Linked DNA regions of Homo sapiens. The protein of the gene in region 1 purifies or fractionates together with the protein of each later gene. This does not show direct contact. Each region holds a gene or a part of one and is shown in the gene's direction. Other genes may lie near its edges. The genes, in order: USB1, RBM22, XAB2, CWF19L2, ESS2, CDC5L and GPATCH1.

Region 1 (4,201 bases):
ATGAATTTGAATGGAGACAATTATTGTTGCTTCAAAACTTGAGACTTTGGGGATTTTGTTCATGTCATCTGAAAAGTATGGTGTATACTGGAATGTCCTAGATCAGAATAGAGGGTGGATTTTCTTTCATGTCACAGATGTAATGACCCTCTGATACTTCAGGGAAAGCCTCTGTGAATACGACTGTCTTAGCTCAGGCTGTCATAACAAAATACCATAGACTGGGTGGCCTAAATAACAGAAATTTATTTTTGCACAGTTCTGGAGGCTAGAAGTCCAAGATCAAGGTGACAGCATGGTTGATGTCTTTTTTTTTTTTTTTTTTTGGAGACAGAGTCTTACTCTGTCGCCCATGCTGGAGTGCAGTGGCGCAATCTCAGCTCCCTGCAACCTCCGCCTCCCAGGTTCAAGCAATTCTGCCTCAGTCTCCCAAGTGGCTGGGACTACATGTGTACAACACCACGCCCAGCTAATTTTTGTATTTTTAGTAGAGACGGGGTTTCACCATGTTGGCCAGGCTGGTCTCAAACTCCTGACCTCAGGTGATCTGCCTGCCTTGGCCTCTCAAAGTGCTAGGATTACAGGTGTGAGCCACTGCACCCGGCCAAGCGTGGTCGGTTTCTGGTGAGGGTTCTTCCTGGCATATAGATGGCCGCCTTCACATGGCGGGGCAGGGGTTGGGGGCTACAGAGAGAGAGAGCAGTGCCCAAGCTCTCTGTGATTAAAGGGCACTAATCATGAGGGTCCTGCCCTCATGACCTCATCTAACCCTAATTACCCCTCAAAGGCCCCATCTTTACATACTATCACATTGGGGGTTAGGGCTACATGAATTTGGGGGAGGTGACACGATTCAGTCCATAGCAAGGACCAGTCCTGTGCTGTTTTGTCTGTCTGTGGAGGGTGCTTGGGATCAACACTGAGTATCTTGTCTCCCACTGGGCAGGCCAGGGATCCAGCAGGGATGTCACGACAGCTCTGTCACAGACCTGCTGTGAGGGCAGGGCCTGCCAAGGCGTCCGGGTGACTGCCTGCCTCTCGTTTCCCTCCCCAGGATCCTTCTTTCCACCTCAGCCTGGCCTGGTGTGTGGGTGATGCACGTCTCCAGCTGGAGGGGCAGTGCCTGCAGGAACTACAGGTGAATTTCCAGGGCGGGAGCACAGAGGGCGCTGAACTCCAGAAATGACAGGACAGATGCTGGAGAGGGGGAGGATGAGGCACCCAAACCTGAATCCCTGGGAAACAAATGACATGGCAGGAGACCCCAACACCTTCCCTTGTGACTCAAGGTGTGGCCCCTGGACCAGCAGCTTCAGTGTCACCTGAAGCTTATTAACAACACAGATCTTTGCCCCCACCCCCACCAAGACCTAAGAAATCAGAATTACATTTTAACAAGATCTCTGGGGATTTGTGTGCACATTACAGTTCTAGGGAGCACTGCCCTAGAACACTGATCTGCGAGGAGGCTGCAGGCTTTCCCTGAAGTCCTAGCCACTTGCCCAGAGGTCAGAGGCTTGGGCCTGGCACTGAAAATGGGTGAAATGTACCAGGGGTAAGGAACATCCAGCCCCCAGAGTCTATCAGATTTTGATAAGTAGCTGAAAGATTCCACTTTCCCATCTGCGCCCTTGGAGGAGAACCAGCAAGTTACATGAAGTGGTAAGCGGCGGCTGATACTCCAGCCCTGGTTGGGGAGACAGTAGGGAGTGTGGCCATGCGGGAAGATTGGCCTAGAGTTGCCAGCACTTCTGTTTCATAAGAGAAGCCAGAAACCTAGATTTTTACATGTAATCTGTCAGTTTTCAAATGTCAGCAACTAATTTGGATGTTTAAAAAACATTTTGCAACCAAACCAAACGTGCAGGCTGGATGCAGCTGTGGTCCCTCGTTAAGGAGCCACCTTGCGCTTGGCCTGATGTTGCTGGAGGTGGCAAAGAGCTCTAGTTTGGGCTCCGGCAGACCTGGGTCCCAGGCCTGGTTTTATTGGTTTCTGTGATCCAGGGCTCTGAGCATCTGTGTCCTCATCTGTAAAGTTGAGATGATAGGACCAACCTCAGAGATTACAGAAGTGATCAGACAAGATCACCAATGCAGAGCCTGGAGCCTGCAGCCTCAGCCTCGCCCAGCCTCTGAAGTTGGGTGAGCTGGTTTTGTTTGCAGTGCCCTGTGGGTCCCAGATGCCCCTTAATGTGACTGTCCTCCCCTGGCTGCTGTTTTAAGGCAATCGTGGATGGGTTTGAAGATGCTGAGGTGCTGCTGCGCGTGCACACTGAGCAAGTCCGCTGCAAGTCTGGGAACAAGTTCTTCTCGATGCCTTTGAAGTGAGCACCAGAGGCCTTCCTCCTCCAGGGCCCTCTGCAGACCAGGCTGAGATGGAGGAACCTGCTAAAATCGATGGAGATGCTTCTAGCCTCCCAGTAGGAGGCCCCAGCCATGCCTTCAACCTGGCAGGAGGTGTAGCCACTCCTCATCCTCCCTGAGTGCTGATATTCTCTCTCTCTCTTTCTCTTCCTCTTCTTTCTCTCTCTTCTCCTCTCTTTCTCTCCTCTGTCTCTCTTCCTCTCCTCTCTTCCTCTCTTCTCTCTTCCTCTCCTCTCTCTCTTCCTCTTCTCTCTCTTCCCCTCCTGTCTCTCCTCCCCTCCTCTCTTCCTCTCCTCTCTCTTCCTCTCCTCTCTCTACCCCTCCTGTCTCTCCTCCCCTCCTCTCTCTTCCTCTCCTCTCTCTCTTCCTCTCCTCTCTCTTCCCTTCCTGTCTCTCTTCCCCTCCTCTCTCTCTTCCTGTCCTCTATCTCTTCCCCTCCTCTATCTCTTCCTCTCCTCTCTCTCTTCCTCTCCTCTCTCTCTCTTGCTTTCTTCTCTCTCTCCTGTCTCGGCTGTTGTGGGTTGCAGGTTGGGTGCTGCTGTTGTGGTCCTTCCCAGAAACTGCCAGTAGAGGGCAGCCTGGGCATCCTAATGCTTACTCTGGTTGTTACACAAAGAAAATATTGGGGTCACTGGCGAGCCCACCCACACTCACCAGAATCTCCACTGTAGTCCCCCTAACAAACAGCCCTTCACTTCCTCTCCCACTTCAGCAATTTGTATTTTGATGCCATTGGCCTCAGATCAGAGTGTTTTAAATCATCACGCCCTGGCTTATCCCTGGTCGAGCCAGGACACGGGGTGCTTCAGTGGGTCTGTCACCCTCTCTCCTTGAAGCATGTTGCTTTTATTTATTTACTTTTACTCTCACCCTGCTCCTGTACCAGCAGGGGCCACTTCAAAGCCAAGGTACAGGGTGATAACTTGTGGTCCAGCATCAGTTTTCTCCACTTCTTTCTCCCACTCACCCCCAGCAAGGTGCCTGGGGAGACTTGAGCAGATGTTTCATTTTGGCCTGGCCAGTGGCTGAAAGCCAGGCCTCCAATGCACTGTGACCTCTGGCTTCCCCAGCAGCTTTCCCAGAGAGGCAGAGGGGCCTTCCACAGCCCGGGTTCTCCTGCTGCCTCCTGCCTGCTGCAGCTGCAGGCATTCTGAGGGGCAACGTGGAGGAAGGGCCAGGGATGCATGGGATTTTAATTGTTTCATCACACCTTCCCCGTGGCAAAGAAACAGTCAGTCCTCTTCAGGTGTCTTCTGGATTTCTGGTGATGGACAGAGAAATCTTTTTACAGTTTCAAATTATGTTCAACAAATAAAAATTGCATTTTTTATTTTGGATCTTTTTTGGACTACTTGTATTTAACCCAGTGAAAAGATGACTGTCACCTTCCCCTACCCTGTCCAGCTGTGTCTCACAGTTTGGGAGGATTCTTGGAAGTCTCTGCTGTGACTTCCAAGATGGCCTCGAGAGGCATTAATGATGCTTCAGTAAAATAAGGGTAGGGAGGGGTCACCCAGCCTGCCAGGTGTACACACAGAGTTCTCACATAGGACATCTAGCCTGGAGCTAGGTGGCAGGGGTCACCACCCTCATCCCTCACCCACATAGGCAGACATTGAAGCCTTATACTGCTGTGACACTGAGCACTTCCCAGAACCTTCTCGTGTCTTCCTCCCAGTATCCCCTGAAAGGTAAACAGGGTGGGAATGTCTAGTCCTCTGTTACAAGAACAGGTTAAGTGACTTGCTTGCATGAGAAATAGGGCCGTACTCAGCCCTAACCTCAGGTCCTGTGCTGGGGTGGCCCTGATCCAGCCCTGCACACCACCTCGTGGTCA
Region 2 (3,989 bases), on another chromosome or scaffold:
AAATTGTTGGTTTTTAAAGAGACTGGCATTTGATAAATTTGTGTTATTTTTGGCTTGTATTATGCTTGGCTAGATGAGACTTCTGGGCAGATAGTAATGGAAATTACCTCTTCCAAAGAGATAAAGTGGAGAAGAAACTCCTGTAAGTTTATAACCTGCCCTTGGTAGCCTGTCTCCATTAAACCCTATCTAAGTGAGCTAGACAACCCCCAGGGGTTGGCAGACTTTCGCTGTAAGAGGCTGGATGGTGAATATTTTAGGCATTGTGGGCCACATGCAGTCTCTGTCACGTATTCTTGTTTTAAACTTTCTTGGCTCATGGGCCTTGAGAGCTATGGTTTGCCAACCTCTTATCTAGGGTTTAGGGTCTTTAAAGAACCTATTAGAACCCCCTTTCCTCCATGGGAAAAAACCCTGAGATGTTTGAGAACCTTTATTTACTCATTATTTTTCTTTCCTTCTCTCAATCAGCAGCACCCACAGTAGGACAAGATATGGGGTGGAGACCTGCGGGTAGTTAGGCAGATAACCTTGGGGCCCACCTGCCTAGTGGTGTGTCAGTGAAAGTTAATCCATTTTCAGTCTCCTGGGTACATCTTTTTTAACTCCCACTTTCATTTTTCTCTGCCTGTTTCCCTTCAGAAATCATTTCTACCAGTTCGGAGAGATCCGGACGATCACTGTTGTGCAGAGACAGCAGTGTGCTTTCATCCAGTTTGCCACACGGCAGGCTGCAGAAGTGGCTGCTGAGAAGTCCTTTAATAAGTTGATTGTAAATGGCCGCAGACTGAATGTGAAATGGGGAAGGTGAGAATTAAACTATTTTTAAGTGACATTTTGCTTAGATTTTTAAGAAACTATTTCATTTTCTGGAGACTAGTAGGCTTTTGGTTAACAGGCTTAAATGAACAGGATCTTTAAAGAGATCTTTCAAAGATCACTCTCTATGTGATACTTGATTCCTGTGGATGTTGGGAGAACCCTGCTTTGGAAATGTATTCAGGGGGTTGGTGTATAATCTACTCCTTTGAAGGTTCATGTTTTTGTGACTAGCTATTATAGGCCAAGTATAATGCCAGGCCATGAAAGGTGAATTTTAGGGTTTATAAATGAATTAGACCTAGATTCTGCCCTTAGAGGCTGATTGTCCAGTGGAGAAGATAAAACAGGGAAGAATCGCTATTTTAAGTTTAAAAGTGATGATTGCATAAGAGAGACACAGGTGAAAGACCCAGTTCAAAGGGGGAACATGTCTCCAACTTGGAACCAGGGAAGTGATGGCTAATAGCAGCATCTGCCTTTGTGGAGCGCTCCCTATGTGGTAAGCACTGTGCTAAACACGTATGTGTTGCCTTTTCTGGTCCTTATGATAGTTCTAGCAGCTTTTGAACCCAGGTCTTTTCTGGTGTCAAAACCTTTGCTCTTGTTCACTGTGCACAGTGGCATTTATGGGAAAAGAGTGTGTGCTGAGGAGGAGGTAGAGCGAAGGAACTCCATTGGACTGGGGAATGTAAGAAGCAGAGGTGTGAGATAAGGTGGGCCAGAGTGCCGACTGTATGCATGTGTGTTTCCCAGATCCCAGGCAGCCAGAGGAAAAGAAAAAGAGAAAGATGGAACTACAGACTCTGGGATCAAACTAGAACCTGTTCCAGGATTGCCAGGAGGTGAGTGCAGACTCCCTGCTGACTTCAGAAGCTCTTTCTGCCCTGATGTTCCTATTTTGGAAGATGGGACCCAGGTCTGGTTCATGTTGCCGCTCTACTCTCCCAGTAGGACCTCTGAGAATGTAAAGGTGGTAGAAACAGCGTTGCACAATTGTTCTCCCCTCTATGTGTTGACTATTTTCTCTCCTCCAGCTCTTCCTCCTCCTCCTGCAGCAGAAGAAGAAGCCTCTGCCAACTACTTCAACTTGCCCCCAAGTGGTCCTCCAGCTGTGGTGAACATTGCTCTGCCACCGCCCCCTGGCATTGCTCCACCCCCACCCCCAGGTAACTTCCATCTTCCTTCTTAGCCCAGAGAAATCCTTGTGAAAGTTCTGTCTCATAAACCTCACCATCATGTTCAACACATCCAAATCCTGTGAGTTTGCTCTGTAGAAGTCTACCAGTAAAGTTGATCTGTTGGGATTTCTGAAATTTTTCTTTCTCCTGCTCTGCCGAGGAGAAGAAAGGGGCCAGTTTTCTAAAGATCCGCGTATATGTGTCAGCAGAGTAAGATTATTAGATTACAAAGATCTATCACCAATTTGTTCCCTTTTCTAAACTAAATGCTAATGGATGCCCTAGAGCACTATTGCCCAGTGTGGGCTGTGAGCGGGTGTCATTTTACAAAGTGTTTATCACCTGTCTGCCACAAGATCAGGAGCTTGTGCCAAAATGTAATCAGTGAACCCCTTCCTTCATTGAGAAAGTCTTGTTACCAAAAAAACTGTCAGATGAACTAAACTGTGCCTGGTCGTATAATTTACATTTTGACTCAAGCTCTTTGTCTTGAGTGGCCAGAAATAGGTGGAGGACTGGCACTTCGTATAGCACTGCTGTAGACAGTGTTAACAGTGGAAGGAAATCACAGGTAGCCAGTTCTCCTGTGGCAGAGAGCCCATACTCTGAAGAGAATCTGGTTTCTGAGCACCCTCCATTCTGGTGTCAAGCATTGAGGTTAATGATGACACAGTCTTTGCCATCAGCCTGATTTCTTTCTTATCTCCCAAATCCTGACTGAATCCTGTCTGGTAGGATTTGGCATGTTGGATACATAGCAGAGACTCAGATGACATACTAGGCGATACCTTGAGTGCTGTGGAGTTTTTTGGACTGTGGGGGAAAGGTTTCTAAAACCAAGGAAATAACAAGTGGAAGTAAGTTTGTGAACTGACATTTGCTTAAGCCCCGTGTCAACCTTGATTTATGTGTAGGTGGTTTTAACCTTAGCAAGATTGAGAGGTTTGAAAGGTTATCAAGGAAACTACCAGCCTAACACATTTGTTCTCTCGTATCTGCAGGTTTTGGGCCACACATGTTCCACCCAATGGGACCACCCCCTCCTTTCATGCGGGCTCCAGGACCAATCCACTATCCTTCTCAGGACCCTCAGAGGATGGGAGCTCATGCTGGAAAACACAGCAGCCCCTAGCACCTTGTCACCACTCTGGGGCTCTGTGGAAGAAAGGGCACTTAAAACTCCCAGTAAATCTTGGAATAAATATATTTTTCCTTCCCTTGTAGTTTCCATGGTAGCTGAATGTGCTCAGATGTGAGCAGTCAGAGACTGACAGCCATGCTTTCCTATACTTGTTCAAAGGATCGATGGACCGTAAATAAGCTGCCATTAACACATCTGGTTACTGCTGTAACATGACTAATAAAACCGAACGCCTGTTCCCCTTACCCGTGTGGGGGACACGCAGATGAGTGAATTGGAATGTCCAGCAGAGTTACCCTCCCAATTATATGTTCATTTTGTATATTTTTTGGTCGGGGGAAAAATTGACCTGCAGTAAAAAAACCTTTGACCATTTTTATGTCCATTGGATACTTTCCTTTTTATCATCTTAAAAAAAGATAACTAGTACTAATCATTGTAGTGGCCTAAGTGTGATTTAACTCTTGAAGTCACACCCTCCGAAAGATGAGTAGAAACCAGCACCAGCACAGCCCAGATCTTCTCTTTCCTCTCCTTTTCCTCATTTATTCCTAAAGGAATCTGACCATTTTACGTCTCTACGGCCCAAAAAAAGACAAAAATAAAAATTCCTTTTTATTCCTGTCAACTGGATGGAAACACAAATTTCATGGAGCTGTGTACCATCGAAGAAACCTGGTGTCTGGCATGAAATTACTGTAAAGAACTTCCTGTAAAACACGTTCTTTAACAAACTGAAATGAAAAGCATTGGAGCGTCTGAATGAAAGACGTGACCTCCTGCTGGGACTCTGATGGTCTTCAGCATTCACCTTCGTGTGTCTTCAGTGTCTCATTGTCATCCCTGCT
Region 3 (3,989 bases), on another chromosome or scaffold:
GTCAGGACTGAGGCTGGACTAGTGGAGCCAAGGCTGGACCCATTGTGGGTTGGGGGTCAATTCTAACCCAAAAGGACCAAGGCTGGACCATTGGGGCTGAGACTGGACCACCGCAGTCAAGGCTGTGCCCTTGCGGGTCAAGGCTAACCCAAAAAGTCCACAGCTGGTCTAGTCAGGACTGAGGCTGGACCAGTGGAGCCAAGGCAGGACCCACAGGGGGTTGAGCCTAACCCAGTGGGGCCAAGGCTAGACCAGTAGGAACCGGGCTGGACCAGTGGGGCTGAGGCTGGTTTGACAGGGCTTGCTTTTGCCCAAGACACTCATAAATGGGTGGGGGGGGACGCCCCGAAGCCACTGAATCGGGAGGTGGGCGTAGCCCTGCCACCCCACTGACTGCCTGAGGGGTGGCTCGGTCCCCAGCTGAGTCCTGAGAGTGCAGAGGAGTACATTGAGTACCTCAAGTCAAGTGACCGGCTGGATGAGGCCGCCCAGCGCCTGGCCACCGTGGTGAACGACGAGCGTTTCGTGTCTAAGGCCGGCAAGTCCAACTACCAGGTGGGCCTGCCGGGAGCCGGCAACTGGGTGGGAGGGCCACCCCCTCCATGACTGAGCCTGAGACTCTCCCCCACTGCCCCATGCCCTGCAGCTGTGGCACGAGCTGTGCGACCTCATCTCCCAGAATCCGGACAAGGTACAGTCCCTCAATGTGGACGCCATCATCCGCGGGGGCCTCACCCGCTTCACCGACCAGCTGGGCAAGCTCTGGTGTTCTCTCGCCGACTACTACATCCGCAGCGGCCATTTCGAGAAGGTGCATGCTGGCACACGGGGCTCTGGGTTCGGGGCGGGGTCTCCCTCCGACACTCGGGGACACATGTTGACACATGCACAGGCAGAAAACATGCCATTTATGGCTGGGTGTGGTGGCTCACACCTGTCATCCCAGCACTTTGGGAGGCCGAGGCGGTAGGATCACTTGAGGTCAGCAGTTCAAGACCAGCCTGGCCAACATGGTGAAACCCCATCACTACTAAAAATACAAAAATTAGTCAGACATGGTGGTGCGCGCCTGTAATCCCAGCTACTCGGGAGGCTGAGGCAGGAGAATCGCTTGAACTTGGGAGGTGGAGGTTGCCGTGAGCTGCGATCGCGCCACGGAAGTCCAGCCTGGGTGGCAGAGCGAGACTCCATCTCAAAAAAAAAAAAAAAAAAAAAAAGTGCCATTTTTGACAGACATGCATATCCCTGCACACGATTACTATCCTGCTGAGGGTGGGGGAGCACTCCTGCCCGCAGGCACGTCAGCCTTGGAGTCAGCCACATTTGCGTTCAGGGTTCACCCTCTGGCTCTGCGGCCTTGGCCCCACTAAGGTGGGGTGTCTTCATTTGTAAAATCAGGGTGACAGTTACTGCCTGTCACCAATCAGCTCAGTGACGCAGGCACAGCACTGAGGAGGTACGTGGTGTGAGGGCCACTCCCTCAGGGGTTAGCTGACTGTGGCTCTTGGCAGGCAGTGGAGTGGCAAGCTCAGGGGATGGCCTGGGGGCAGGTGGGTGCAGAGGGGGCCAGAGCCGAGAGCGGGGAGGCTCAGGAACCCAGGGAAGATAGGTTGGGAGCCTCGAAAGCCAAACGGGCTGGCCATGCTCCTGGCTGGGGGAGCCGCCAGTGGGGTGTGGGCGGTATGCGCTTCGCAGCGCCCCTTCCAGGGGCACGTGTAGGCCAAGGCTGTCGGAGGCAGCAGGGCAAGACCCGTCAGGGCTGGGTAGAGAGAGGGGACCTGAGCTGGGGTGGGCGAGCCAGGTGGAGGACAGGCGGGCTGGGGAAGAGGGTCAGGCAAGCGAGAGGGACGCTTTGGAGCAAATTCTGAGGCCTCGGAGGATGAGCTGAGGCGAGGGTCCCTGCAGGGTGGACCCATAGGCGCTGGGGGGTTTTTGGCCACCTATTGGGTGCCAAGTGCTTCACACATGTGTCTCAGTCGAGCCCTGAGGTCACTGTGTGCAAAGGGCAGTCACCCAGTTTACTGAGGAGGTCCTGAAGCTCCCAAGACCACCCTGGCAGTGCAGGGCAGGGCGGGGGTGAGAAGGCTCCACGGAGGCTCTGTCCTGGGGTCACTACCCAGAGGTGCTGGATGCGTCACTACCCAGAAGGCCCCCAGGGGTTCCACATTGAGGCTGGTGCTAAGAGTGCTGCTGCCTGTCCCCTGCGCCACTTTCCTCTCACCTCCCCTTCCCTGGGTCCCCACAGGCTCGGGACGTGTACGAGGAGGCCATCCGGACAGTGATGACCGTGCGGGACTTCACACAGGTGTTTGACAGCTACGCCCAGTTCGAGGAGAGCATGATCGCTGCAAAGATGGAGACCGCCTCGGAGCTGGGGCGCGAGGAGGAGGGTGAGCCTCTGGGGGCCCCGGCTGGTGGGGAGAGAGCTGAGTGGACATTAGCGGTAGGGGCGGGACACATCTCAGGTGAGGCAGCCCTGGGAGGCTCAGCTGGGGGCCAGCAGGGAAGGAGGCTGAGTGGATGCAGGGGGTGTGGGGGTCTTGAAGGAGCCAGGAATGGGGACACTTCTCAGGCCTGGGCCAGAGCCTGGCAGGGCAGGAGGGCTAGGGGAACAGTGGGGGTAGGAGGGGGTATCCACAGTACCTGGGGCTGGGGGTGGGGCTCAGGTGGACACCCGAGCTGAGTGTCTAGGGCCCAGAGCACTTGGCTGGGGGCTGGAGCGGAGTGAGGGTGGGGAGTGGAGGCGGTGGCATCCGGGGACCTGCATCCTGGGTCTCCGCCCCTGACAAACATGTTCGCGGCTCCCAGATGATGTGGACCTGGAGCTGCGCCTGGCCCGCTTCGAGCAGCTCATCAGCCGGCGGCCCCTGCTCCTCAACAGCGTCTTGCTGCGCCAAAACCCACACCACGTGCACGAGTGGCACAAGCGTGTCGCCCTGCACCAGGGCCGCCCCCGGGAGGTACATGAAGCCTGCCCCAGTCCTACCCCTGAGGGCCAGTTTCCTGCAGAACTGGGGAGCCACCCACCTTCACCCATAATGTCACCTTCTAGGGGCCTGACTTTGCTTAGTAGGTCCAATTCCACCCCTGTTCTTGGGGTTCTCCTCCTGCCCGAGCCCCGCCCCTCAGAGCCACAGTCCCTCCTGGCCCCACCCCTTGGAGGGCCACAGCTCCCTCGTGGCCCCGCCCCTTGGAGGGTCACAGCTCTCTCCTGGCCCCGCCCCTTAGGGCCACAGCTCTCTCTTGGTCCTGACCATTGTCAAGGGCCATAGTTCGTTTCTGGCCTCTCCCGACAGGGGCCACAGCACCCTCCAGGCCCCACCCCTCAGAGCCACAGCTCTGCCCCGACCGTCATCTGCAGGGTCCTGAGTCCTATATGACCTCCTCCCTCCTGTCCCCAGATCATCAACACCTACACAGAGGCTGTGCAGACGGTGGACCCCTTCAAGGCCACAGGCAAGCCCCACACTCTGTGGGTGGCGTTTGCCAAGTTTTATGAGGACAACGGACAGCTGGACGATGTGAGCACCCTGTTGCGTGTGCCTGTGTGTTCATGCATGTGTGTGTGCTTGTATATGTGTGCATGTATGTGTGTGTACATATTTGTGCATGGATGTGTGCACGTGTGTGTGCATGTGCATTTGGGTGCATGCATATGTGCACGCATGTGTGTGCCTGTGTGTGTGCCTGTGTGTTTGTGCCTGTATGTTTGTGAGCATGGTCACCTTTCTGACCCTTGATGGTGGGAGCTGTCCAGGTGGGCAGGGTCTCAGCCTCGCCTCTGCCCGCCCCGGCAGGCCCGTGTCATCCTGGAGAAGGCCACCAAGGTGAACTTCAAGCAGGTGGATGACCTGGCAAGCGTGTGGTGTCAGTGCGGAGAGCTGGAGCTCCGACACGAGAACTACGATGAGGCCTTGCGGCTGCTGCGAGTGAGAACAGGCCCAGGCTGTGGGGTGGGGGCTGCAGGTTGTAGGGCAAGGGCCAGGGAC
Region 4 (3,455 bases), on another chromosome or scaffold:
AAGTAGTCTGGGCAATGATTGCTCTAGAAGTGAGCCTTTAATCTAGTATAGATCAGGCCTTTCCATTCATATTTATCCCTATGTAGCCAGGCCCTCTGAAAAAGAGGGGCCTTGGTGAACTCTGCTTGGGATTCCCTGTTCTCCACCCTGCTCCCCACTTTCATCTCCTGCAGAGGAACATCTTCTGCAATGAGTAGAAATATCTGAAGAGGAATCTCAACTCCAGAGGTTTGATTCAAAACTTTTTAATGCTCTTGTCCTTAGTGGGTTAACCAGCATAACAAAGTAACATGCATCTTTGAACTGTTATAACATATTACAGAAACAAGTTTGAGAAGTGTTCAGAATTTTTTTTAACTAGAAAGAAATGTGTTTTCACTGTTCTGAAAAATCCTGTTGTTATACAGTAGAGCTTTATAACCAAAAGCTCTATGGCTGGATTTATTAAAAACAAAAACAGAAAAACAAAACAAAACAAAAATTTGGTCCTAGAAAAAAGGAAGTAAAATATCCATTTTTAAAAAGTTGTATATATTAAACTGGGAGATTGCCCTTTCTTCACATATTATTCATGCATTCTGGTTTATATGATTCAGTTTTGGAGTTAAAAGTAAATTTTCTCTGTCAGCATTGCGTCACTGAGCCATTTTCCTCAAAATTTGCTTTTTAAGAAATAGCCTGTGGGCTCAAGACCTCCCTGCAGTCTGCTGCTGAAGCAGTTGTTCAGAGAGCAAGAAGAGATTATGGGGATAGTCTTTCCATTAACAGCTGCTTTGATAACAGAACAAGAGTCAAGCTTATATGGTAGATGTAAGACAAAACTTGGTATTTTATAGACAATTTTAGGTAAACTTTTATAAGCTAGGCTTTCTTAAACTACATTGCTTATTTGGACCGATGCTGAGAAACTCTTGAACTAAATCTCAATTTGCCCTATTTCTCTTTTCTACTATCTCTGTTGACCCCTTTATTTCCCTTCCCTGATGACAGGAGATTCCCTTTTCCATGAAGCATCTCCTGGTCTGGCCAACAAATAGATTGTTTTTTTTTTTTTTTTTTTGAGTCTCCACAAATGGTCTGCTTTGACACTTACCTTCTACTTTATGAGACAGTCTGCTGCATAGCTGGATTATTATTCCTCCCACCACAGCTCCAGATTCTATTCTGTCTGAAGACAACTGTGTGTCTTCACCCCACAATCTCTGTATCCCCTACAACATACGGCATTTGCTTCTGCATAGTAGGTCCCTAAGTAAGATGAAGAACCTGCATCTGAAAGATTATGTGGTTTGTGCAGGATCTCACCACACAGTCTGGTGGAGCTAGACCGACTATGCAGAATTTGATCCTTAGTCTGTTTTTTGTTGTTGTTGTTTTGTTTTTTGTTTTTTGCTTTGTTACCATACTGCCCTCCCTCTAAGCATTTAAGCATTAGGAGGCTCCCCCATGTCTTTCTGTTCATGGATACTCACATGCCTAAATTTGATTTATTTCTATAGCTAACAGCACAGGAAGAGGATCATGAAGGAAATCAAGAATAATAATCAGATAACCAAAAAGCCATTTATTATGGGACTTGAGAATGTGATTTTTTAAATGAAAGTGATATATAATTTTTAATTCTATCAATAGGTTTACTTAAACTAGTATTACAATAGGATTTTGTTTCATGAAAAAAGATTTCTGCTAATAGTGGAAGAAACTAATTTATAAATATACTTGGTAGCAGAGAGAGAACATTAGCTTGGGATTCAACTGCAGTTGAGCAGTAAAGTTAATAATTGCTAGAAGTTGATTAACATTTTTGCAAAATTGTTTACGGGAGCCTCTAATAGAGATCATATTAATTAAATTTCACTTGTTTTCCCTCCCCTTTGTTACCATCTAGTAGATGTGCTAATAAGCAACAAAATGGACAAATTGCTTGATAGGAGATGCAGCTAACTTGGACTCTTAGAATCACACGGTTTGCCTAGTTAGAATTAACTGAAAACATATTTTTTTAACTTCAACTAGTATTTATGCTTGAACATTGTCATGGAGAAGAACTTGTTATATTTTATAGCAGAATAAACAGAAATAGTTTCATTTCTGTTTTCATTATTTATACATGCTTGTGTTTGTGCTTTTCTCTTTCTTTAAAAGGAAATCATAGGTGGGATGCTGGATATAGAACCAAGACTTTGGAGGAAAGGCATCCGAGAAAGCTTTGAGGATCAGAGGAAAAAAGCACTGCAGTTTGCTCAGTGGTGGAAACCATATGACTTCACCAAAAGTAAAAACTATTGAGGTGTACCTTCCATTTTAAAATTTTTCTTCAGATCCCGTTCAGTTTTATTTCCATTGCATCTAATGAAGCAACTGACCCTCAGGTCACAGGCAGAGAGAGTCACAGCAGCAGACTGCTCTGGGTCAGTGACAACTGTACATCAGGAGATTGTGTTGTTTTCTTCTTCACCTGCTCCTATCTATGGACTTCATTTTAGTCACCATGGAGTAAAAACATATATTCGATGATCTGCTCACATTCCTGCTCTCTACCTACTTCTTGGTATTCCGAATTGTTCAGTTAATTTAGAGAAGGCCTTTTCTGAAGGGATATCTAAAAAGCATAGGAAATCCTTGGTTCAGAGGGAAGTGGGTCTGCTTCATGGTTGTTAAGTCTACTGTCTGGCTTCTTTTGCATTTTTAAAAATAAGACGATTTAATTTTAATTTCATAGGATTTTATAGAAAAGCTCTTAATTTTCTACTAGCAGTATATAGTATCACTTCTATTCTTTTTGTTAAAGGAAAAGGAAATGTCCCCAAAGTATTAAAGAATTAAATGATACTGAAAATTTGTATGATTCAAATTTGTTTTTATTTCTGGATTTTTAAATAGTATCTTTGAATTTTGGTGGTTCTAAAAGTAATTCTTCCAAATAACATATTTTAGGGTTGTTTGGGGTTTGCATGAAAGTTAAAATTTATAGCCAAATCATTGGTTTTGAGTTGTACTGATTGTCGTAAAATCTTAAGTAATGAGAGTTTTTATTTATTTATCTTTTTGTTTTGTTTTTATTTATTAAGACAGAGTCTGGCTTTGTCACCCAGGCTGGAGTGCAGTGGCCCAATCATAGTTCACTGTAGCCTTGAACTCCTAGTCTCAAGCTATCCTCCTGTTTCAGCTTCCCAAAGTGCTGGGATTGCAGGTATGAGCCACCATGCCTGGATGAGAGTATGGGACATTCTGTTGTCCCTTACTTGATCCAAGGAACGTAATTTTTATTTGTTCTCAACTCACACCATAGTCATATTTTGTAAGTATAGGGTTTTTATGTTTTGAGTGCTCCTACTTTTCTTTTTCTTAATGGAAATTATTGTTGTAGTAACTTTTTTTTCAGCTATTGGCTTTTTGGAAGCTGAACCTTTTTGTATGAAATGTTGGATACCTAGATTCAGTGTGAGGTGTGC
Region 5 (3,989 bases), on another chromosome or scaffold:
TCCCCCTGATGCCAGCCTCTCTGCTTGTTCCAGCACAAACAGGGCAAGGTGGGCCCCGATGGCAAGGAGCTGATCCCCCAGGAGTCCCCTCGAGTGGGTGGATTTGGATTTGTTGCCACTCCTTCCCCTGCCCCTGGTGAGAAAAGTGCCCACTGGCAAGTGGGTCTACTGCTGGGACTCCCTGGGGGAGGTGGGCTTCTCAGTCGGCCCTGGCCACTCCTGGCCTCTACCTGGCCTGCCCCACACCTTGTGTAACTCAGGGACCTGGTCTCCTGTCTGTACAAGGCCCTAGAGGCCAGGTGTCCAGGCTGCTTGGGGCCGTGGGTGGGCTGGACTCTCAGGCAGACCTGGCCTGAGACATCCTGGGATGACGTGTCCTGTCCTGGTCCTTACTGTGATGTCAGTGGGTGGGGGTGTGTGCACAGTGCTTATGAGTCTAAGTCTACCTAGCACTGCAGGGAGGGAGGCCCAGCACCTCAGTGGAGGTGAAACTCAGGTGGTCTTGTGGCATGCGTGGGTGTCCCTCTGCACTCTGGCCTCTGTGCTCTTGGGTGCTGGTGCTGTGTCACACGCCAGGGCATGTGAAGGCACCACAGGTTTGCCTGGGGTTCTAGGAGGTTTGGGAGCCCTGGAAGGCCTGAGTGTCTCCTCCTGCGTGGCTGGGGGAGACCTCCCAGAGGCTTGTAGGCTAAGCACATGGCTGTAGGGCCTTGAGCCTGCCTCGGGCCTGCTGGGAGCTTGGCATTTCCCTTTCGGAGGATGGAGGTGCCAGGGTTCCAGAGTCCTGGGGAAGGAGAGAGGGCTAGCTGCCTGCCTTCGTATTAGCTGGGATGCACATTGGGTGAACAAGCTGTGACTGGAGGGGAGGGTGGTGGGGAGTCCTCTGGCCTGAGGTGGTTTTGGGCTCTTTGTCTGCAGGTGTGAACGAGTCCCCGATGATGACCTGGGGGGAGGTTGAGAACACACCCTTGAGAGTTGAAGGGTCGGAAACGCCCTACGTGGACAGGACACCCGGCCCAGCTTTTAAGGTGGGTTGTGGTGATGGGGGAACTGTGTGCGACCGGGGTGGACACCTCTGGAGCCCTGAGTGCCTGTGGCTCAGGACTGAGCACTGGGATCGGCCCCCAGCTGCTGACGGGCAGAGTGCTGGCTTTTCTGAATGCCAGGGTGCTGAAGGCAGGTGTGGGTGGGTGGACCTGTCACAGAGGGATTTGGGGGTGTAAGGGCTGAGACACCAAGGCAGGGAGTGGCTTGGGCCCTCTGGATCCTGGAGGCCGGGTGCTGTTCATGAATGAGGCAGGATGGTCACAGACACGTGAGGAGCTCTGCAGGCCTGAGGGCCATAGGACGAGGCTGTGTGCTTGTAGAGAAGGCCCCTGGTTACAGAACACGATTGGGACACGCTGGATTACACGGCTCAAGCCTGGTGTTGTAGGAGTGGTCAGGGTGGAGTGTGTGAGGCCCGGCACAGACCAGGGGAGGCTCTTCGTGGGCTGGGTCAGATACAACAGGCCTCCCCATACCACTGCGGGCCTTTCCCCAGAATACTTAGTACAGGTAACCCATGTCCAGACAAAACATGGGGAGAGGTTCTGGTTACCTTGGTTCTAAATTGTCTGGGACACAAGGATAACCAAGGCAAACGTGCGAGAGGGATAATGAAGAGGATGCCGTGCTGTCCAATGTGAGAGCGCAAGGCAAGGGCTGAGGTGCTTCTGAGGTATGCCTGCCACTGCTTCCCGAGTCTCCAGGCCAACAGTAAACAGATAAATTCTGAAACAAACCATGATCCAAGTCAGAATTTGGGGCCCGATAAAGATGGCAACTCAGATTGCACTGAATAGCAGAGTATTTAGAAATGAAGGGAGCTGGGTCCTCAGGATGTGTAGCAGCATACATTGTGGAAAGGTGAAAAGGTTACATGTAAAAACAATAACCATAAAACAACCAGAAGAAAATAGTGGCGAATATTTAGTTTGATTTTTGGGTTCAAGTGATTCTCCTGCCTCAACCTCCCAAGTAACTGGGACTAGAAAATAGTGGCGAATATTTAGTTTGATTTTTGGGTTCAAGTGATTCTCCTGCCTCAACCTCCCAAGTAACTGGGACTACAGGCGCGTGCCACCACGCCCGGCTTATTTTTGTATTTTTAGTAGAGATGGGGTTTCACCATGTTGGCCAGACTGGTCTCGAACTCCTTGGCCAGACTGGTTTCGAACTCCTGACCTCGTGATCCACCCACCTCAGCCTCCCAAAGTGCTGGGATTACAGGCGTGAGCCACTGTGCCTCGCCTCTTTTTTTTTTTTTTTTTTTTTTTTAACAGATAGGGTTTCACTCTGTTGCCCAGGCTGGAGAACAGTGGTGCAATCATAGCTGATTGTAACATTGAGCTCCTGGGCTCAAATGACCTTCCAGCCTCAGCCTCCTGTGTAGCTGGGACTAACAGCATACACCACCATGCCCAGCTAATTTTGTGTGTGTGTGTGTAGAAATGAGGTCTTGTCATTTTGCTCAGGCTGGTCTCCAATGCCTGAGCTCAAGTGATCCTCCCACCTTGGCCTCCCAAAGTGCTGAGGTTCCAGGTGTGAGCCACCACTCCCAGCCTGTAGTCTAATCTTAAGTTAGGAGGGACTTTCTAAACATAAAAGCAAAGGAAGAAATCACAAATGAAAATAACAAATACAGCAGAAAATGTTATAAATGAAACAAATGTAAATGAGTGAAAAAACATGTGCACAGCGTAGCACAGTTGACTTGACACAAGGTCTTGGCAAGGGTCTTCTGAGTAACAGCAGCAGAAAAGGAAAATGAGCCCCTTGAGAGCAAAATAGGCCACAGGCACACGGGGAAGCGCCCGAAATACAGAGCGCCGATAAAGACAGAGATGTTCACTCTGATAATCAGGGAAACACTAAAACAGACTGCTTTTTCCTGAGAGATTGTCAGAGGTCATGGTTTTGGGAGGAACACGAAGACAGGTGAGGAGTGCTGCGCCTTGGGCAGGTCAGGTGGGGTTTGGGGCTTTCCAGGGGCTTTTAGTGGGAGGTGATGGGTTGTGGGGGTTTTGTAGGCAACAAAGAGAGGCTGGCACCCACCACAGTGGCTTTCTGTGTGAGGGGCTGCCTGGCGTGTGGCAGGCCTGGCGCAGCTACCCACACACCTGCTACCTTGTAGATCCTGGAGCCAGGCCGCAGGGAGCGGCTGGGTCTGAAGATGGCCAACGAGGCCGCTGCCAAGAACCGGGCCAAGAAGCAGGAAGCCTTGCGGAGAGTGACGGAGAATCTGGCCAGGTGAGGGGCCGCCTGGCTGGTGGGGAAGTGCGAGGGTGGCTCTGGCCTGCTCCTGTTCGGCCCCTGCCCTGACCGTGTGGAGGCATGGCCCACGCGGCAGAGTCCAGGGCAGGTCCGCGGGGTTCTGCAGTGGGTACTGTGGCAGCTCCTCTATCCAGAGCATGGCCGCACATGGACAGGATGAGAGGCCCCCTCCATCTTCTCTTTCCTCCACGTCCTCTTTGACCCGTCCCTAAGAGGCATCTTTAGGCGTGTGGTCCTGCTGGGAGCTTTCATCAGCCCTGTGGAGAGAGTCATCGTTCCCCTTGGAGAGGGGTGGGGACTCCAACTCTCAGAGGCCTGGGGGTGCACCCCAGCCCCCACAGCCAAGGGCGGTGCTGCTGTTTGACCTCAGGTTTGACCTGAGCGCTGCTGTTTGACCTCAGGGATCCCCCGCATTTGCTGCCATGCTGGCAGTACCATCCTCCTCAGCTCAGAGTGACTGTGTCTCTGCCCAGGCTCTTCCTGGGAGCCAAGGGAGGCCCTGCTGCCGGCAGCTCTCAGCCCACCTAACCCTGCCTCTCTCACCCATTCCTCCACCCCAGCCTCACCCCCAAAGGCCTGAGCCCAGCCATGTCGCCAGCCCTACAGCGCCTTGTGAGCAGGACGGCCAGCAAGTACACAGACCGGGCCCTGCGGGCCAGCTACACACCATCCCC
Region 6 (3,989 bases), on another chromosome or scaffold:
AGAAAAGGAGCTTAATTATGATGATGGAAAATGTCAACTCTGTGAACCTTATCAAAGAAAGCAGACATTGTAATATAACAAGGCATGGAGTGGGAGATGGAAGTTGGGTGTTTGACTTAGCTGTCACTTGCTTCCTGTGTGGTCTTAGGCAAGCCATTTTTCTATCCCTCTCCCCTGCCCTTGTTTTCTCCCAATTAGGGATAATAATACTTGGTCCTGACTGATAGAGATGTGAGTTGTCATCTAAATGGGTTAATGTATTTGAGAGTGCTTTGTGAAGCATACAAAGTCTACTTTCAGGGACAGATGAGCCCCAGCTTGTAAATTAATTGTGTTCTAAAAGTGCATAAGTTAGCTGTTTTAGAAATTACTTGCTCAAAGAAATAAATGATAAATAATGGCTAATTTTCTAAGTAAGCCTACAGTAGTTGAGTTTCCTCATAATACAGTTGAAATATTATATATTTTATAGTTAATATGTTATATATTATATATTAAACATACTTAATGTTATATATTATATATTAAACATATTTAATATGTTATATATTATATATTAAACATATTTAATATGTTATATATTATATATTAAACATATTTAATATGTTATATATTATATATTAAACATATTTAATATGTTATATATTATATATTAAACATATTTAATATGTTATATATTATATATTAAACATTTAATATGTTATATATTATATATTAAACATATTTAATATGTTATATATTATATATTAAACATATTTAATATGTTATATATTGTATATATTAAACATATTTAATATGTTATATATATTAAAAGATATAAGCCAACTCTGAACCTGTGGTGTCACCTCTTTTTTATTTTTATTTTTTGGGACGGAGTCTTGCTCTGTCGCCCAGGCTGGAGTGCAGTGGCGTGATCTCAGCTCACTGCAAGCTTTGCCTCCCGGGTTCACGCCATTCTTCTGCCATAGCCTCCTGAGTAGCTGGGACTACAGGCTCCTGCCACCATTCCCGGCTAATTTTTTGTATTTTTAGTAGAGACGGAGTTTCGCCGTGTTAGCCAGGATGGTCTTGATCTCCTGACCTCGTGATCCATCCACCTCGGCCTCCCAGAGTGCTGGGATTACAGGCGTGAGCCACCGCGCCCGGCTGGTGTCACCTCTTAAATCATAGGGTAGTGGACACGTGAAGCTATTTAGGGTGTTCTTGGCATGAGTTATTTAGCACCATCCCCAAGTCATGTGGCATTAGGAAAATACTTTGGATTGTATAAGAATGACCTAATTTCCTAGGCACCTGGTTAGGGGAAAGTATCAGAATGTAGAAATTGGCCAGGCGTGGTGGCTCACATCTGTAAGCCTAGCACTTCGGGAGGCCAAGGCTGGGATCACCTGAGGTCAGGAGTTTGAGACCAGCCTGGCCAACATGGTGAAAACCCCGTCTCTTCTAAAAGTACAAAAATTAGCCAGGCGTGGTGGCTACTTGGGAGGCTGAGGTGGGAGGATCGGTTGAACCCAGGAGGTGGAGGTTGTAGTGAGCTGAGATGCTGCCACTGCACTCCAGCCTGGGCGACAGAGTGAGGCTTTTTGAATGTAGAAATTGGCTGTTAAGAGGAAGATGATTTTTAGGCTGAAGAAGTCGTTCTGATTTCTGTTTGTCTTAGTGGTACCAGTTCCTGCTGTCATATTTGGTAGGACTTAAGTCCTGTTTGCCTGCCTGTCATCCAGCTAAGTAGACTGGATGGAAAAGGTGGGCTGGGTGGGGAATTAGGAAAGACAGAGGGAATGTCATAGTAGTTTTACTTAAATTTTAAAACATATCAAATGAAAGGTTACGGTGAATTTAGTGAGTGTAAGTCAAATGCTTAAAGAAATAAGCCATGGTGTGAGAATCAAAGCATGAGAAAATAGTATGAAAACTGGAAACACTGTAAGAAACGTGATTTTGTATTGTCTTCCAAATATTTCAAAATTTCTAGAAAAGCGTAAATAAATAAAAACATGATAGATGAGAAAGAAGGCTTATGATCATGATTCAGTGAAGTAACCTTTTTTAACCATTACTAATCTTGCATAATTAAAATAAAATAGAATGTGATGAGATGGGGAATATTGACTGGGGTAAGTGTAACCACACAGCAAATATTCTGTTGTCAAAAAGAACAGTTTTTGTAATTGAAGGATGAGAGCACAAGTCAGTGTATCCATTGTGCAAATTGGATATTTATGCCAGGTAACTGATTAATATATAAAATGATCTATGTTTAATAGGTATGAATGGCTGGATCCAAGCATTAAGAAGACAGAATGGTCCAGAGAAGAAGAGGAAAAACTCTTGCACTTGGCCAAGTTGATGCCAACTCAGTGGAGGACCATTGCTCCAATCATTGGAAGAACAGCGGCCCAGTGCTTAGAACACTATGAATTTCTTCTGTAAGTGAGTCTTCAGAAAGAGCATAGAATATATGTATATGTTCTGAAAGAGGCTGAATAAACTTTGAGTATTTTCTGTCTTTAAACTTTTAATTATGGATGTGAGTAAACCCAAAGCTAAAGCCATTGGATAATATTTTCCATATCTCAGATGGTTGATCAAAATTATGCCTTCTGTCATATACTTCCTAAAATAATAATTTAAAAGAATTATACAAGTCATGCATGTTCATCATAGAAAATCTGGGGAAAAAATAGTAAAAGAGCAAATAAAAGTCACCCATAATCACACTGCTAAGAATTAACTACTGGAACATTTTGGTTCTTTACTAATAGTTTTTTTTTTTTTTTTTTTTTTTTTAAATTTGTATGGCTGTACCGCATTTGTGATTAGGATCTGTTTGGGTTCTATTTTAGAGTGATTGAAACCAGTCACTGAAATCAGCAAATTTTAATATCATTTCTTTCAGATGAAGTGATAGTAAAAAGGCTTTATGTTGTTAAAGCCCATCCATTGGTTTTTTTGGGGGGAAAAATATCGTCAGAACTTGGAAATCTGGTAATTTTAACTCTAAATGGTACTGTAGTGTGACTAACTCCTATGGGCTTTTTTCTAGGGATAAAGCTGCCCAAAGAGACAATGAAGAGGAAACAACAGATGATCCACGAAAACTTAAACCTGGAGAAATAGATCCAAATCCAGAAACAAAACCAGCGCGGCCTGATCCAATTGATATGGATGAGGGTAAGTGTATGCTTTGAGGAATTTATTTCTTTGGTAACTGTAAACTCCTTGGGCCTCACTCTTTTAGTTCCTTTCTGAACTCCTCTACTTTAGAATCCCTTTTTTTTTTGAGACAAGGTCTTGCTCTGTTACCCAGGCTGGAATGAAGTGGCACAATCATGGTTCACTGCGGTTTTGACCTCCTGGGCTTAAGCAATCCTCCCATCTCAGCCTCCTGAGTAGTTGGGACTACAGGTTTATGCCGCCATACCTGGCTAATTTTTAAATTTTTTTGTAGAGATGGGGTCTCCCTGTGTTACCCAGGCTGGTCTCAAACTCCTGGGCTTAAGCTATCCTCCCTTTTCTGCCTCCAAAAGTGTTGAGATTATAGGTGTGAGCCACCATACCTGATCCCCAATTCTGTCAGCAGTGTTCTTATTCTAAGTATCTTTCCAAATATGTCCAGTGTTTTCTGTTATAGAGTAGTTGCTTTTTCTGAACAGCGCCCCTTCATCTTCTGTTTCTTCAATTCAGTTAATTAAGTTAATTAAGTGTTACGGGGTGTGGTGGTATGTGCCTGTAGTGCTAGCTGCTAAGGAAGTTGAGGTGGGTCGATCTCTTTAGCCCAGGAGTTGGAGGCCAGTCTGGGCAACATAACCCCTTGAGCCCAGAAGTTGGAGGCCAGCCTGGGCAGCATAACGAGACCCTGTCTTTAAAACTGAGTAGTGTAATTCTACTGAGTAGATTTTTCAGAGGCTAGAGGTGAGCCCTTGAAGATCCTGTTTCTCATTCCTATTCCATGGAGAGAGACATCAAGTCAGAATATTGGACCTCAG
Region 7 (3,989 bases), on another chromosome or scaffold:
GGTAATTTTCTTTAGTGTTTGCGTAGTATATATCTTTTTCATCTTCTTTTTAACACATCTGTTTCATTATATTTAAAGTGGGTTTCTTTTTTTTTTTTTGAGATGAAGTTTTACTCTTCTTGCCCAGGCTGGAGTACAATGGCACTGTCTCGGCTCACCGCAACCTCTGCCTCCCGGGTTCAAGCAATTCCCCTGCCTCAGCCTCCTGAGTAGCTGGGATTACAGGCAGGCACCACCATGCCTGGCTAATTTTGTATTTTTAGTAGAGACGGGGTTTCTCCATGTTGGTCAGGCTGGTCTTAAACTCTTGACCTTAGGTGATCTGCCCGCCTCAGCCTCCCCAAAGTGCTGGGATTACAGGCATAAGCCACCGCGCCTGGCTAAAGTGGGTTTCTTATAAACACCGTGTCACTGAGTCTTTCTTAAAATACATTTTGATAATTTATATTGGACATTTGCATTTAATGTGATCATGGATATTTTTGGATTTACGTGTATGATGTTATATTTTCTGTTTATTACCACTCTTTTTTGTTTCTTTTTTTCCCCTTCTCTGCCTTCTTTTGGATTACTTGAATAATTTTTATATTCCATTTGAATTTTTCTATTTTTTTTCTCTTGGTATTTTTTTTTTAGTGATTGCTCTAGGGATTATAGTATACCTACTTACCTTTTTACAGTCTACTGAGAATTAAATGTTTTACCACTTCCAGTAGAATAGAGAAGCTTTAGCACTATGTAGGTCCTTTTACTCTCCTCCCTCTATGCTGTCTTACATATTACATGTACACACAATGAAAATGCCATCAAACCAGTGGTGATCATTTTTGCTTTTAGTCATTAAACATATTTTAAAAGAACCGATGCAGAGACAATAGCCTACTCTGTTTAATCAGATATTTTCTATTTCTGTTGCTCTTTCTTCATCCTTGAAGTTCCACGTTCCCCTCACCTATCATTTCTGTCTGAGGAACTTCCTTTAGCATTTCTTTTAGACCAGTTCCAACAAGTGATTCTCTTAAATTGCCATTATCTGAGAATGTCTTATATTTTGTCTTCATTCCTGAAGGATGTTTTTGCTGGATATAGAATTCTGGGTTGATAATTTTTGTTTTGTTTTGTTTGTTTGTTTTTTGAGACGGAGTCTCGCTCTGTCACCCAGGCTGGAGGGCAGTGGCGCGATCTCAGCTCACTGCAAGCTCCACCTCCCAGGTTCACGCCATTCTCCTGCCTCAGCCTCCCGAGTAGCTGGGACTACAGGCGCCCGCCACCACGCCTGGCTAATTTTTTGTATTTTTAGTAGAGACGGGGTTTTACTGTGTTAGCCAGGATGGTCTCGATCTCCTGACCTCGTGATCCACCCGCCTCGGCCTCCCAAAGTGCTGGGATTACAGGCGTGAGCCACTGCGCATGGCCAATTTTTTTTTAAATTAAACTGCTACTTCCTCCGGGGTTTCGTGATTTCTGATGAGAAATCTTCAACCATTCAAATTGTCCTCAGGCTGGGTGTGTTGGCTCACATCTATAATCCCAGCACTTTGGGAGGCTGAGGCAGGGGGCTTGTTTGAGGCTAGGAGTTTGAGACTACCCTGGGCAACATCGTGAGACCCCATCTTTTACAAAAAATTAAAAAACTAGTTGGGTGTGGTGGCATGCACCTGTGGTCCCAGCTACTCAAGGGGCTACGGTTGGAGGATCACTTGAGCCCAGGAGGTCAACACTGCAGTGTGCTATGATCGCACCATTGCTTTCCAGCCTGGGTGACAGAGTGAGACCCTGGCTCAAAAAACCCCAAAACAAATTATTATTCCTCTGTACATAATGATGTGATTTTTCTCCTAGCTGCTTTCAAGATTTTTACTTGGTCTTTGGATTTTAGCGGTTTGATTATGATGTATCTGGGTGTGAATTCTTTTGAGTTTATTTTGTTTGGGGTTTGTTAAGTTGCCTGAATCTGAGTTTGGAAATAGAACAGAGGCACAGTGCTCTACTGCATTTTTGGGGATCCTAGTAGCTGGGATTACAGACGCCCACCACCATGCCCAGCTAATTTTTGTACTTTTAGTAGAGACAGGGTTTCACCATTTTGGCCAGGATGGTCTCGATCTCCTGACCTTGTGATCCACCCGCCTAGGCCTCCCAAAGTGCTGGAATTACAGGGGTGAGCCACCACGCCTGGCCCGGTTTTGCTTCTTTGACCTCATCAGCACATTGTACAGTTGTTGACTCGGAAACACCACAAAAATAGAAGCTATGTGAGTGATCACTGTTTAGTTGGGTGGTGTGTGGCTATGGATACCCATGTACATGAGCATAAACATAAATATGTGTGTCTGGGAGTGTATTCTAGAATGTCTCCTCCCTTTTACCCTTGCCTCTGTATCCCTGACTCTTATTTCACTGTCAATACAGACCGTCAACAAAGATGTGGACGCACAGGCTGAAGGAGAAGGGAGCCGCCCATCCATGGACTTATTCAGGGCCATCTTTGCCAGTTCCTCAGATGAAAAGTCCTCATCCTCCGAGGATGAGCAAGGTGACAGTGAAGATGATCAGGCAGGCTCTGGGGAGGCCAACTTCCAAAGCTCCCAAGACACTGACTTGGGGGAAACATCATCTGTGGCTCACGGTATGTCAGTATTTCAGACTCGGGGATCTAAAGGAGAAGACAATGACTCTAGGACAGCTGCTTCTCTGTTTACTCTATAATCTTAAACCCGAATGATTAGCAATCAATGATATGTAATCTTTTATATGTATATAATTTTTTTTTTTTTTTTTTTGGAAACAGGATCTGGCTCTGTCCCCAGGGTGGAGTACAGTGGCGCAATCTTCGGCTCACTGCAGCTTCCACCTCCTGGGCTCAAGCAATCCTCCCACTTCAGCCTCCTGAGTAGCTGGGACTACAGGAATGTGCCACCACCCCTGGCTAATTTTTGTATTTTTAGTAGAGATGGGGTTTCACCATGTTGGCCAGGCTAGTCTCTAACTCCTGACCTCAGGTGATCTGCCCACCTCAGCCTCCCAAAGTGCTGGGATTACAGGCATAATCCCAGTGCCCGGCTAGTTTTCCAGACTTTTAAAATTTTTATATCTCTTCTATCTGAATATATAGTAATCTGCTTAAAAAACAAGATTATTAACGTGAATATGATCATTTATCTTCAAGGTTTTTTCTTTGATAATTTATTTTGAGTGAAACTTGTCTCCCGCAGTTCTCTGTGATGGGACATACATAGTCTTACATTCCTGATGGTTTGTAAGATTTTCCTTCTCAGATGGCCCTTTCTTGGGGACACATTTCTACTTTTCAGGTCTTAGGGGCGCTAGGCTACGTGCCCACGGGTGCACTTGGCACGCTGTACCTCAGCCATTGCTGCCCTTGGTTGCAGGTGCCCTCGTGTGACTGACTTCCAGCTCTGGAGTTCACAAGGGCAGCACCGGGGTCTGCGTGTTCACTGCTGCATCCTTAGCACCTGGCAGGAGTGAAGTGGTGTGGGCAAGCATATGTTATCTGGTGGCAAAAGACATGAATGAAAGACTCAGAGACATTAACATGGGGCAGACGAATGACATGAACACCCCGCTGTTTTTCAGCTCTTGTGCCAGCACCCCAGGAGCCGCCACCTTCCTTCCCGATACAAAAGATGCAGATAGATGAAAGAGAAGAGTTCGGCCCGCGGCTGCCTCCCGTCTTCTGCCCCAGTGAGTGCAGAGCCCTTTGGTTCGCCCATTTTTATCAGTGTGTGATTGCCCTGAGATGGGGACAGTGTGACTTAGAGCCGACCAAACATACGTGCTTGCTTCTGGTTTATATGTTTTCAGTCATATTTTAAACCCGTTGTCTCCACCTAGTGCCTGAAATGATAGTTGTTTCTATACACCTTCAGAGACCTCCAAACTTTATTTCCTTTACCTGCCACATGTTTACAGGAGGGTCCTAAGTATCTTAAGTTTTGTTATAGAAATATAAGTTTCCCAACAGAGCT

The links.
Region 2: the proteins of USB1 (region 1) and RBM22 purify together in Homo sapiens (affinity purification with mass spectrometry; 3 studies listed by BioGRID and IntAct, with this or other methods). This does not show direct contact.
Region 3: the proteins of USB1 (region 1) and XAB2 purify together in Homo sapiens (affinity purification with mass spectrometry; 3 studies listed by BioGRID and IntAct, with this or other methods). This does not show direct contact.
Region 4: the proteins of USB1 (region 1) and CWF19L2 purify together in Homo sapiens (affinity purification with mass spectrometry; 3 studies listed by BioGRID and IntAct, with this or other methods). This does not show direct contact.
Region 5: the proteins of USB1 (region 1) and ESS2 purify together in Homo sapiens (affinity purification with mass spectrometry; 2 studies listed by BioGRID and IntAct, with this or other methods). This does not show direct contact.
Region 6: the proteins of USB1 (region 1) and CDC5L purify together in Homo sapiens (affinity purification with mass spectrometry; 4 studies listed by BioGRID and IntAct, with this or other methods). This does not show direct contact.
Region 7: the proteins of USB1 (region 1) and GPATCH1 purify together in Homo sapiens (affinity purification with mass spectrometry; 3 studies listed by BioGRID and IntAct, with this or other methods). This does not show direct contact.

The regions. Positions count from the first base shown.
Region 1 is NC_000016.10:58,017,918-58,022,118, forward strand, and holds the end of USB1 (U6 snRNA phosphodiesterase 1), read left to right. Parts: intron 1-1,054; coding exon 1,055-1,138; intron 1,139-2,223; coding exon 2,224-2,328; 3' UTR 2,329-3,701; downstream 3,702-4,201. UniProt on the Homo sapiens protein: 3'-5' RNA exonuclease that trims the 3' end of oligo(U) and oligo(A) tracts of the pre-U6 small nuclear RNA (snRNA) molecule, leading to the formation of a mature U6 snRNA 3' end-terminated with a 2',3'-cyclic phosphate.
Region 2 is NC_000005.10:150,690,894-150,694,882, reverse strand, and holds part of RBM22 (pre-mRNA-splicing factor RBM22), read left to right. Parts: intron 1-642; coding exon 643-807; intron 808-1,575; coding exon 1,576-1,664; intron 1,665-1,856; coding exon 1,857-1,988; intron 1,989-3,001; coding exon 3,002-3,132; 3' UTR 3,133-3,989. UniProt on the Homo sapiens protein: Required for pre-mRNA splicing as component of the activated spliceosome. Involved in the first step of pre-mRNA splicing.
Region 3 is NC_000019.10:7,622,702-7,626,690, reverse strand, and holds part of XAB2 (pre-mRNA-splicing factor SYF1), read left to right. Parts: intron 1-420; coding exon 421-555; intron 556-646; coding exon 647-811; intron 812-2,245; coding exon 2,246-2,390; intron 2,391-2,808; coding exon 2,809-2,960; intron 2,961-3,401; coding exon 3,402-3,521; intron 3,522-3,797; coding exon 3,798-3,929; intron 3,930-3,989. UniProt on the Homo sapiens protein: Involved in pre-mRNA splicing as component of the spliceosome. Involved in transcription-coupled repair (TCR), transcription and pre-mRNA splicing.
Region 4 is NC_000011.10:107,325,744-107,329,198, reverse strand, and holds the end of CWF19L2 (CWF19-like protein 2), read left to right. Parts: intron 1-2,145; coding exon 2,146-2,289; 3' UTR 2,290-2,839; downstream 2,840-3,455.
Region 5 is NC_000022.11:19,134,362-19,138,350, reverse strand, and holds part of ESS2 (splicing factor ESS-2 homolog), read left to right. Parts: exon of another isoform or gene 1-33; coding exon 34-136; intron 137-918; coding exon 919-1,028; intron 1,029-1,404; exon of another isoform or gene 1,405-2,012; intron 2,013-2,091; exon of another isoform or gene 2,092-2,142; intron 2,143-3,175; coding exon 3,176-3,291; intron 3,292-3,875; coding exon 3,876-3,989. UniProt on the Homo sapiens protein: May be involved in pre-mRNA splicing.
Region 6 is NC_000006.12:44,390,400-44,394,388, forward strand, and holds part of CDC5L (cell division cycle 5-like protein), read left to right. Parts: intron 1-2,267; coding exon 2,268-2,429; intron 2,430-3,046; coding exon 3,047-3,174; intron 3,175-3,989.
Region 7 is NC_000019.10:33,115,413-33,119,401, forward strand, and holds part of GPATCH1 (G patch domain-containing protein 1), read left to right. Parts: intron 1-2,134; exon of another isoform or gene 2,135-2,255; intron 2,256-2,412; coding exon 2,413-2,629; intron 2,630-3,597; coding exon 3,598-3,705; intron 3,706-3,989.